4 separate regions of the Homo sapiens genome follow, and all the other regions are linked to region 2. Evidence: fine-mapped expression QTL. A gene starts in region 2. Each other region holds a variant in brackets. All regions are shown on one strand. Distances are between the middles of the regions. Region 1 overlaps MERTK (MER proto-oncogene, tyrosine kinase). Region 2 holds the start of MERTK (MER proto-oncogene, tyrosine kinase). Region 3 overlaps MERTK (MER proto-oncogene, tyrosine kinase). Region 4 overlaps TMEM87B (transmembrane protein 87B).

Region 1 (2,705 bases), 100 kb before region 2:
AGCCAGAGTCTAGCTCTGTTGCCCAGGCTGGAGTGCAATGGTGCAACCTTGGCTCACTGCAACCTCTGCCTCCTGGGTTCAAGCGATTCTTGTGCCTCAGCCTCCCAAGTAGCTGGGACTGCAGGCATGCACCACCACACCCAGCTAATTTATGTATTTTCAGTAGAGACGGGTTTTATCATCTGGGCCAGGCTGGTCTCGAACTCCTGACCTCAAGTGATCTACCCACCTCGGCCTCCCAAAGTGCTGGGATTACAGGTGTGAACCACCATAGCCGGCCCCTTTTTTCATTTTGTATCTATTATTTCTCTCCCAAAAATGCCAGTAATAAAATTTCATACTTTAGAATGATTAAACTAAGTATAATGAATCCTTCAGGGCAAGGTTAATTCTGAAGAATTACAAAAATCAGAACCACATTTCTCATTCTGTTGTGTGGTAGCAGCAGCCGGTAATCAGATTCATGTAGGGGTGGTTTGCCTTTGACTTAAAGGGGTAAGGAAGATAAGTCAATAGGTAATTTCTGGTGAATTCTTTACTATTAATATTATACCCTTGACTACAGTATACAAAAGAACCACACGTCCCCTACCCTCCCATGCCATGGACGGAGTCTCACAAACCACAGGAAACATCTAGAGAATAAGCTCTTATTTTACATACTGTATATGAAACCTATTATAACAGCATAGCAAGGGCTAAATTGAGCACTTTGAGGAATTGGAGAAAAAGATTTTTCTATAATAAAATATATAATATAGTAAGGTATATAATAGATGAGTCATGTTGGCAACAAGAGAAATTAACCAGAAGGGGACCAGTTCAACAACTCTTGGCAAATGATTCAGTCTGGACCACAGTTAAGGCATGAACAAGCTCTTGAAAGATCAAAAAAATGTGGATAATTAGGACACATTAGTTCTCAGAGAAAAAGCTTTATCCAGTGGTTCTCCAATAAAGGAAAGAAAGTGGTCTAAATGACAAATTTTAAAATTTTAAATTAAAAAAAAAATTGAGGATATCTAAAAGTCAAAACTTACAGACTAGAAAGGTAAAGAAATTAATAATATTCTACACCAAGCAAGTTTCTATTTCATAGCAACCTGTATTCTGTCATTCTTATCTATTTTCTTTATTGGGGGCAAACATCCAGAAGCATGAATTTGTTAATATTTGCATGTCCTTTCTATACTTTTTCTGAAATTATTCAGGAACACTAGTGTCTGTTTATTTCCGCTGTTTAAACCAGAAGCC[C/T]CCACTCTCTGATTCAGCAAAGCTCAAACCATAATTACTATAAAGCATGTTGGCAAATCATCCTCGGAGTTGGTTGCCAGGAAAACAGGAAATGAGGCTTGAGATTATGTTCACTAGTTAGAAGTTTTCTTTAAATCCCTGGCCTCTACCCATCTTCTGTCACCCTAGAAGGTTCCTCTTTTCTGCCACATTTCATGACATTGTGAGTCCTTTTAACCCCAGGTCAAGCTCCTGATTGCAGTAAATTAGCCCACAGAGCTGTGCATGGCAATGTCTGGCTATCTACTTGCTGCTTTTAAAGACATTTTGTACATTAAAAATATCCATTCTTCTTCGACATCTTTGGCTTTTGTTAGAAATCTGTCTATTGATCCTTCTTTGTTCTCAACTATTTTAACTTTTGCCAAAAAGGGAAATGAAAGTCAACTTACAGGTAAGTTCAATGGCTCGCCGACAGAAGGATTTCTTTGCTATATAATTCACCACTAATTCAGAATCCTCCTCTGTGAATGCATTCCTGGGTGAATGAAAACAAAGATACTTCACTATAAAAACAGGGCTACTGGGGCAGGCACTGATTCCACAAGGATGCTACAGAGCTTCCGCTTTTCAATGGGCTCTTCTACAACAAAAGCTTTCCCCCTAGAAGAAACGTGTTTCTTTCCTTTGATTTATTTTAGACTTACTTGGCAATATTGAAACTACTCTAGCCAGGTACCGCCAAGAACAGAGAATAACAGATAAGCTCCCAGTGGCCAAAGCTGTAACAGTCTGAGCAAGAAACTAAAGTAATACTAGACTATGAGTATAAAATGAATATCCATAAGTCTATACTTATGAAAATATGATTGAATGAATGAATGGAAGAAAAGACACCAATCTCCTGTGGTGAAGAATTCCAAATATTTTATGTAGCTAGTAAGGGGTGGAGGGAGTTAAACCCTCATGCTGTCAATATGGGCTATGCATAGTGACTTGCTTCCAAAGAACAGTAGGGAAAGGGAGAAAAAATAACTTCATGGTAGAGAAACCCAGCAAATACTACTTCAGCCAGGTGATCAATGTCAACATCAACAGTGATACATCATGTTAATATGCACCCTTGATAAGAAGTGATGACAATGGCATTTTAATTCTGTGCTCCTCCTCTCAATCACCCATAACCCCTGCTCATTATCAGCAAAACATCGAACACATTGCAATAGAGGGGCATCCTACAAAACACCCGACTAACACTTCTGAAAACTGGCAAGATCATCAAAGACAAGGAAGGTCTAAGAAATGGCCACAGCCAAGAGGAGCCTAAGGAGATGTGATGACTGACTGTAAAATGTGGCATCCTGGAAGGGATCCCAGAACACTAAAGGGACATTAGGTGAAAATTAAGGAAATCTCAAGAAAGTAGAGATGTTAGTTAATGACAATGGATCAATATTGGCTCATTAACTGTA
Region 2 (2,617 bases):
AAGGAAAATCTCAAAGGAAAAACTTTTAAGTAACTTACTTGACTATAAACTGAGCTTTCCAGGTATTCCTAAAAAACATCTTTGACTGTAATAGGTGAAGGCTAGTCAAGTGCATTCTCGATCAAAAGAGAGAAAATCTACATGCTGAATGGAAATAGAAACCTTTTAGCTGAGAGAAAATACTTGGAATGTGTTTATTTAGCATTTTTCCCCTTTCTTTTTCTTTTGGGTAAAGCCTGGTAAGTTTATTCCAGCCTCCTCAAGAAGTGCATCAGCGATCAAACTTGAAATCTGTTCATCACTCACTCCCCAAATAAGCTGTTCAAGCAGAATGAAACCGGCCTTCCTTGCCTCCACGTATCAGTCCAGCATCTTGTATTAAAATGCCTGGAACAAGCCGGGCGCGGTGGCTCACGACTGTAATCCCAGAACTTTGGGAGGCCAAGGAGAGCAGATCACGAGGTCAAGAGATCGAGACCATCCTGGCCAACATGGTGAAACCCCGTCTCTACTAAAAATACAAAAATTAGCCGGACGTGGTAGCGCGCGTCTATAGTCTCAGCTACTCGGGAGGCTGAGGCAGGAGAATCGCTTGAACCCGGGAGGCGGAGCCTGCAGTGAGCCGAGATCGCGCCGCGGCACTCCAGCCTGGGCGACAGGGCGAGACTCGGTCTCAAATTAAAAAAAAAAAAGCCTGTAACAACACTTCGCTGAATCCAGATAAACGTAAACGCTGCCGAGCACTGTAAGTTCTGTTCTGCCATAACAGGAGTGAAAAGAACGCTCCCCTTTTCCCACACTCTCTGGGTGCCCCTAAAAAGGGATACTAATAATGCCCGTAAGGGCCCATTGGGAGCAGCCAGGACTGCCGTCCCCCCCTGGCCCGTCGCTCGGCCTCAGTCTATCGCGGCTCCCGGACTGCGGCTCCGACTCCCGCAGCCCGTTCGTTCGCCCCGCGCCGGTCCCTCGGGAGACCGGATCTGTGGCCCCCGGGACTCCGGCCAGAGCGGGGCCCCACCATGCAACTCTAGTGGAAAGTTCTCGTCGCATCCCAGACCAGACCTGCTACCTACGTTCCACTCGTCGGAACTTCAGGACTTGCAGCGCGCCCGGCCGAGCTCGATTTCCTCCTCTGCGGTGAAGAGGGGAGCCTGCAACGCCGACCCCGACCCGGCTTCACCACGATGCGCACCCGCAAGCCAGGCTGGGTGCCCTCGGGACGCTTGAGGCGCCGCGGTCAGTGGACGGTAGGTTCGCCTACGCCCCCTCCTCTGGCACCGCAGTGGGTGGAGGGTGTTTGCAAACTTGTCCAGCAGCCAGGCGCGCCCCTGTGGACGCGCTCCCTCCCCAGAGGCCCCTGCTTCCTCCTGGGAGCCCCCACCCCCTCGCCTGGCCCCCAGCCGGGCGCACTCACCTCTACGCCAGAGCGCGGGGAGGAAGAGGCCCAGCAGCAGCGGCAGCGGGGCCGGCCCCATCCCGGGGCTGCGGATCTGTAATTTCTCTCCGGACGGATGGACAGATGGACGTCCCGAACCTGTCCTGTCGCCGGCCAAGCGCGCCAGCGAAGCTCCCTGTCCGGGCGGCCCGGGCAGTGAGTGCCGAGTGGCGGAGCCAAGCGGCCGGCGGGAGGTGCCGAGGGCTGGAAGGGGCGGGCCGGGGGCCGAGCCGAGGCCGGCCGGGGCTGGAGGAGAGGAGCGGGCAGGGGGGCGAGTCCCGGCGGGCCCAGCAGGTTGGGGTGGGAGGGGGCGGGAGGACGAGGGGGAGGAGGGGCGTAAAGGGGAAAGGGAGGGGGTTGGAGAGAAGGGGCGGGCCGAAGGCCGCCGCTGGGCAGACGGCGGGGAAGGGGGCGGAGAGGAAGGGGAGGGGGCTGAGAGACCCGGAGGGAGCCGGAAAGAGAAGTGAAGGGGAGGGGTGGACTGGAGGTCCACAGCGGAAGGCTCTGGCCGCTGCGCGGGTCCGGGGCCCCACACGTGTGGGTGGGAGATGGGGAAGGACAGAAGGTGGGAGAGGAGTAGAGGATGCCCGAGGCAGCCCCCAGACCCAAGAGGAGGGTCCAGAGGCGCCCCCGCATTCCGGGCTTGGCTGACACAGAAAACCCTGGCCGCGCCGCTCCCAGAGGCCAAGGCCAGGGCGGCAGCGCTCCCTGCCGAGCGCTCCTCCACATCCATTCCGCTCGCCGCCGAGCGCCGCCTGGGTACCCGGCCCGAGGTGCGCGACACGGCCCTGGCGGCGAGGAGCTCACCTCCCCAGGGGGAGGGGTTCCTGGGAAAGGACGCTTTGCCGTGGCTCCGTGACGAGCCAGAGAGAGGTGACACTCAAGGAGGGAGATGAACGTGAATGACAAAGTGCAGAGCAGGAGTGGGGAGAGGGGGAACCACAGCACGTCACTCTCATGGGCCTCCACAAGGTGTGCAGGGTCCAAGAGGCAGTAGCAGAGAGTGAGTCGTAAGAGAAATGTAACTACTTACGCTAATAATGGCAACAGTAACTTAATTTATATACGTAGTTTCTTAAAGGTAACACTTTTAGAATGAATGTATTTTAATGTGGTCCCTTTAACAACATAACATAAGCCAAATCATGTCCCTCTCCTCAAATCTCCCTAAACCTATCAGTG
Region 3 (2,705 bases), 120 kb before region 2:
AAAGTCCACTTAGGATGAGCTGTTTCCAATTAGGCACCCCTATCTGCTACCATTTTACTACGAAATGTTTTGAAAGATACTCGTTTCTTCTAAACAGAAATTAGGAGAGTCTTCACCAATTATCACAGGACCAAAGCACCACAAGTACATATTCAGGAATTTTCATTTTGCTCCCGTAGGCCCTGCCTATAAGTTTCAACAGTCTAGTGTTTTCTCTAGCTTATAAAAATCAAACTAGATTGCTGTGTTAGAAAACCAGCCACTGTTGGAATCAGTTATGAGGATGACTGCTGATAAAACTTCCATGTAGTAATTAAGTGTTTTAGTGCAATCATGGCCCTGCAGAAAAGGATTTGCACAAGTCCCTGGCAGTCATGAATGGGTCCATCCATTATGTACCCTCCCCAAGGCACTGAATTTGCCATGGCTTCCTTTCCAAACATGAGTTTTCCAAAATGGTACTCATTTTGGAAAGACATTGCATTTTCAATGATTTTATACTCCAAGACACATGTCAATTACATACTGTATAAATAAATGAAATGTCTTAATCTTTAAGTATGGAAGTTTTATGCCTCTATTCTGTATTATTTGGGTATTTGGTTTTCTAGATACTGATTTCCAGGAAAGGATTTGGGTCATAAGAAATATTGCATCTTGCTGTCATTCATGAAGATGTAATGAGTATCAGGTACTATTCATTTGTGCTGTTTTTTCCTAGAACACTTCTGTTATTCCTGGAGACTGTGACCAAAAGTCACTTAAAAAATAATTGTATAGCAGAATTAATAAATGAGTTCAGCAAGGTTGTAGGATACAAGATGGACATACAAAAATCAACTGTATTTTTATATACTAGTGATGAATAATCTGAAAATGAAATTAAGAAAATTCTTTCTTCTCCTCCTCCTTCTTCTTGTGTAGGAGCTGTTTTAATAGCTTGGGCTACAAATGCAATTGTAGCCCTTTAATTTCTCAATTAATTCCTCAAGCACCCACCTAGCCAACTCTGGAACTGTGCTACTTCTGGGCTTTATTGCATGAGATCCTGTATCTCCGTTGAAAGTCATTTTGAGTTGGGTTTTGTATTACATGCTGGTGAAGTCATTCTACTTGTTGTAGAACCTAAACATTGACCCCAACTTCTCTTTCCTGTTTTATCACCCCTCCTCCTATCCTTCCATTGCTTTGCTGTTGCCATGTGAGACAATCTGCTTTTCTTAAAACATAGGTATGCTCCCAGATCATTTGGTCTTTGCTCATTCTGATCTTGTGTGCTGCTCTTAATTTTCCACTGTACTCCTCCTACCACTCTTTTGAGGATATCCATGATGGCAGTGTGGAATTTTTTTTTTTTTGAGACGAAGTCGTGCTCTGTCACCCAGACTGGAGTGGTGCAGTGGCGCGATCTGAGCTCACTGCAAACTCTCCCTCCCAGGTTCAAGCGATTCTCCTGCCTCAGCCTCCCAAGTAGCTGGTATTACAGGCATGCACCACCACGCC[C/T]GGGTAATTTTTATGTTTTTAGTAGAGATGGGGTTTCTCCATGTTGGCCAGGCCAGTCTCAAACTCCTTGAAAGGTGAAGCCAGCTGGACTTTCTGGGTTGAGTGGGGACTTAGAGAACTTTTCTGTCTAGCTAGAGGATTGTAAATGCACCAATCAGTGCTCCGTGTCTAGCTAAAGGATTGTAAATGCACCATTCAGCACTCTGTAAAAACGCATCAATTGGTGCTCTGTGTCTAGCCAAAGGACTGTAAATGCACCAATCAGCACTCTGTGTCTAGCTAGAGGGTTGTAAATGCACCAATCAGCACTCTGTAAAATGGACCAATCAGCACTCTGTAAAATGGACTAATCAGCAGGATGTGGGTGGGGACAAATAAGGGAATAAAAGCTGGCCACCCCCAGCCAGCAGTGGCAACCCGCTTGAGTCCCCTTCCACACTGTAGAAGCTTTGTTCTTTCACTCTTCACAATAAATCTTGCTGCTGCTCACTCTTTGGGTCCATGCCATCTTTAAGAGCTGTAACACTCACTGCAAAGGTCCGCGGCTTCATTCTTGAAGTCAGCGAGACCAAGAACCCACCAGAAGGAACCAACTCCGGACACATCCTGACCTCAGGTGATCCACCCGCCTTGGCCTCCCAAACTGCTGGGATTACAGGCGTGAGCCACCACACCCAGTCAGCAGTGTAGAATATTTTAAACATTTCTCCAGTCAGAACTCATTTCTTCCCTGAAGCTCTAGCAGGCTGCTCACATCACTGTGTGATGCATATGTTATTACAGCCTATCTCCCTTTGTACTATCGATCTCCATGAGAACTGGGGGTCATGTCTCATCATCTACCTGTCTGCCCTGCACAGCTCCAGAGACAATGTCTGCCCTGGGCAGAGTGGCACTATGGGTCCAGCACCCTAGCCCTCCTGGAGAAGCATGTTTAAATACATTGATATTGGGCCATCGCAGTATCAAATGCACTGATAATAGTCTTGGGCTGCTCTAGCAGGAGCAGGAGCTATTTATTCCAGGCAGCAAAGAAAAGATCTGAATAAAAGCTTGATTTTTCTGTTTGTCTATGCACTTTGTGTCTTCCACCTTATCTGTGGCTACTAAGCAACAAAATAGGAAACTACATTCCTTTTTATCTTTTTAATACTTGAAAGTTATTTTCCATCATTGAAAATACACTTGTATTTTTTTGCAAA
Region 4 (2,705 bases), 160 kb before region 2:
TTAAATTTCACAAAAAACAAATTTTTTTTGTTCGTCTATTAGACTTTAATTATAATTTTCATAAAATGATTCACATTACATTTTCTGAAAGAAGATCAGAAAAATCCATTCTTGTGGGCCATGCACAGTGGCTCATGCCTGTAATCCCAGCACTTTGGGAGGCTGAGGTGGGTGGATCACCTGGGGTCAAGAGTTGGAGGCCAGCCTGGCCAACATGGTGAAACCCCATCTTTACTAAAAATACAAAAATTAGCTGGGCGTGGTGGCGTTCGCCTGTAATCTCAGCTACTAGGGAGGCTGAGGCAGGAGAATCACTTGAACCTGAGAGGCGGAGGTTGCAGTCATCCGAGATCTTGCCACTGCACTCCAGCCTGGGTGACAGAGAAAGACTCTGTCTCAAGAAAAAAAAAAAGAAAAATCCATTCTTGTAAATAACCAAGTGCTGACTGAAACAAAACAAAACCTTAAAATGTTAGAACTACTTAAAAACAAAACATTTGCTTAGTTTATTATATATGTTATATTCATTTACATGAATGTATTTGTTTATATTATGTTGTTTATATATATATTAGTATTTCATTATTCTTGTTTGTTTGTTTTTGAGACAGAGTCTCACTGTGTCGCCCAGGCTGGAGTGCAGTGGCGCGATCTCGGCTCACTGCAAGCTCTGCCTCCCGGGTTCAAGTGATTCTCCTGCCTCAGCCTCCCAAGTAGCTGGGACTACAGGTGCCCACCACCATGCCCAGCTAACTTTTTTTGTATTTTTAGTAGAGACGGGGTTTCACTATGTTGGCCAGGCTCGTCCTGAACTCCCGACCTTGTGATCCACCTGCCTCGGCCTCCCAAAGTGCCGGGATTACAGGCGTGAGCCATTGCGCCCAGTCTAGTATTTTATTGTTTTATTATACTTACCAGATAACTTGATATCTGTAGAGTTAAACATAGTTTTCCTAAATATCAAAGGTCCTGATTTCTAAAATGAAAAACAAACACAGGAAGATCTTGTTAGAAAGTTTTTTTTGCAACTGTTTTACCCCACAACATATAGAGTTCTAAGCCTTGCACTCCTCTCTCTGACAAGAGTATTTTTTTAACGTAAATCTGATCACATCACTAACTTGCTTAAAACCTTGTCATGGTTCTACTTCCTGCAGTTACCCTGAGGATCAGGAGGGCTCTGGCCTCTAGCAGACTCAGTTAGGGCCAGTGACACATAAGAGGTAAAAGATGCTGCCATTGCAGGATTAGTGCTGCTCAGACGTGACATGAACTGACTGCATTTGCATGTTGCTCTCCTGGCGTCAATTTGAATGTACTTTTGATAAGGAACTGTCCCCCTCTCCCAGCTCCAAGTCGTTATGGTTTACCAATGCAATTACAACAGACCGAAATTCTTACTGTAGCCTATAGGACGTGAATAATCAAGTCCTGCCCACCTCTCAACTTTCCAGTTCCAGAAAAG[C/A]ATGATATTCTTTCCTGCCCTCAGGATTAGTGGTCAACCTGAAAAATTTACTTTAAAATCCTTCCTTTCACCCTTTGTTCATCTAGTTGGCTCCTTCTCACCCTTCAAAGCCCAGCTCAAAAGCCCGTTCTGCAGGAATTCTTCCACTGTGGCCCATATCCGGCCAGGCCCTCCCTTATATAATCCCTAGCACCCTTTCTTCTTCACAACCTTTCCACAATTTAAATCAAATAATTGATTAGTTGTTTAATGTCTTCTCAGGAATAAAAATCCTGCAGTTAGAGACTGTGTTAAATGTACAAATGATTAGGCATTAAAAACAAAACAAAACAAAACAAAAAACACTGATAGGACAAGTGGTAACCTCTTCCCTTCCCCAACAGAGTTTCAACAACAACAATAAAATTCCCAACTTGGATCCTTCCTTTGAGCTCCAGATCCAAATACCCAACTGCCTAAAGGACATGTCCACTGACAGATGTCCAACAGACAAACCTGTTTTAAACCAGACACACTCCTCTCTGCTCACCAACTTTTCCTACATTGTCCACCTTGGCTGGAGGTGGTACCATCTACAGTCACCCAAGCCATGGCTCCTTCCAGTTCCCCACTTCCATCACCCAATCCCCAAGGCATGCCTACTTTATCTCACAAACATTTATCAAATTTAGTTCTTCCTCTCCATCTCTGTCACCACTGCCCTAATTTAGGCCCTCTGCATTTCCTGCCTAATTTCTGCAATAGCTTAACTGGTACTTCTACCTCCAGATCTGATCCTATAATTCATCTTTAGACAGCAGCCATAGTGATTAGCATTATGTCTAAGATCTTTCAATGGCTCCCTCATTCACATCCTAAAGTAGCTACTGGGAGTCTGGAGGTCTAATCCAACCTAAAAATGGGATATACTGGGCCCACAAGAGGCCTTTTTAAAACTTTAGTTGACATAATAAAAAGATGGATTCCAGTCTCACTTAAAAAAACGAGCTGTGGCAATTCTGTGCCCACTCTGCTAGAATGTATGCAGAGTAAGCTGAAGCCAAATGGCAGCTGCCCTCTTCAGAATGGGCATGCAATCTGTAGTCCACAACATTCCTCACTACCCCCTCCAGTCCTGAACTTAGCTCACTGTGCTTAATGATATGACTTGCCTTGGCCAACACAGGTCCTTGAGTTTGAGGCCTCTGGCCTCAGGCTCAAGGCCAAGCTCAGGCATGGAAAGCTTGTGGTGACCTGAGTC

What was found. PIP is the estimated chance that this variant, and not a neighbour inherited with it, causes the effect.
Region 1: its variant is fine-mapped to the expression of MERTK in whole blood (TOPMed, PIP 0.99).
Region 3: its variant is fine-mapped to the expression of MERTK in whole blood (INTERVAL, PIP above 0.99).
Region 4: its variant is fine-mapped to the expression of MERTK in whole blood (TOPMed, PIP above 0.99).

The regions. Positions count from the first base shown.
Region 1 is chr2:112,000,267-112,002,971 of GRCh38, reverse strand. MERTK (MER proto-oncogene, tyrosine kinase) reads right to left here. Exons shown (of 19, transcript NM_006343.3): 11 at 1,686-1,771. Among named protein-coding and RNA genes, the nearest start is that of TMEM87B, 54 kb to the left of the region's middle. The variant C/T (reference allele first, on the strand shown) is at 1,255.
Region 2 is chr2:111,897,594-111,900,210 of GRCh38, reverse strand. MERTK (MER proto-oncogene, tyrosine kinase) reads right to left here and starts at 1,604. Exons shown (of 19, transcript NM_006343.3): 1 at 1,415-1,604. The coding sequence starts at 1,475. RefSeq lists an enhancer at 2,136-2,465.
Region 3 is chr2:112,016,286-112,018,990 of GRCh38, reverse strand. All of the region lies in intron 15 of MERTK (MER proto-oncogene, tyrosine kinase), which reads right to left. Among named protein-coding and RNA genes, the nearest start is that of TMEM87B, 38 kb to the left of the region's middle. The variant C/T (reference allele first, on the strand shown) is at 1,504.
Region 4 is chr2:112,058,248-112,060,952 of GRCh38, reverse strand. It overlaps TMEM87B (transmembrane protein 87B), which reads right to left. Exons shown (of 19, transcript NM_032824.3): 2 at 916-976. Among named protein-coding and RNA genes, the nearest start is that of TMEM87B, 4.3 kb to the right of the region's middle. RefSeq lists a silencer at 165-379. The variant C/A (reference allele first, on the strand shown) is at 1,466.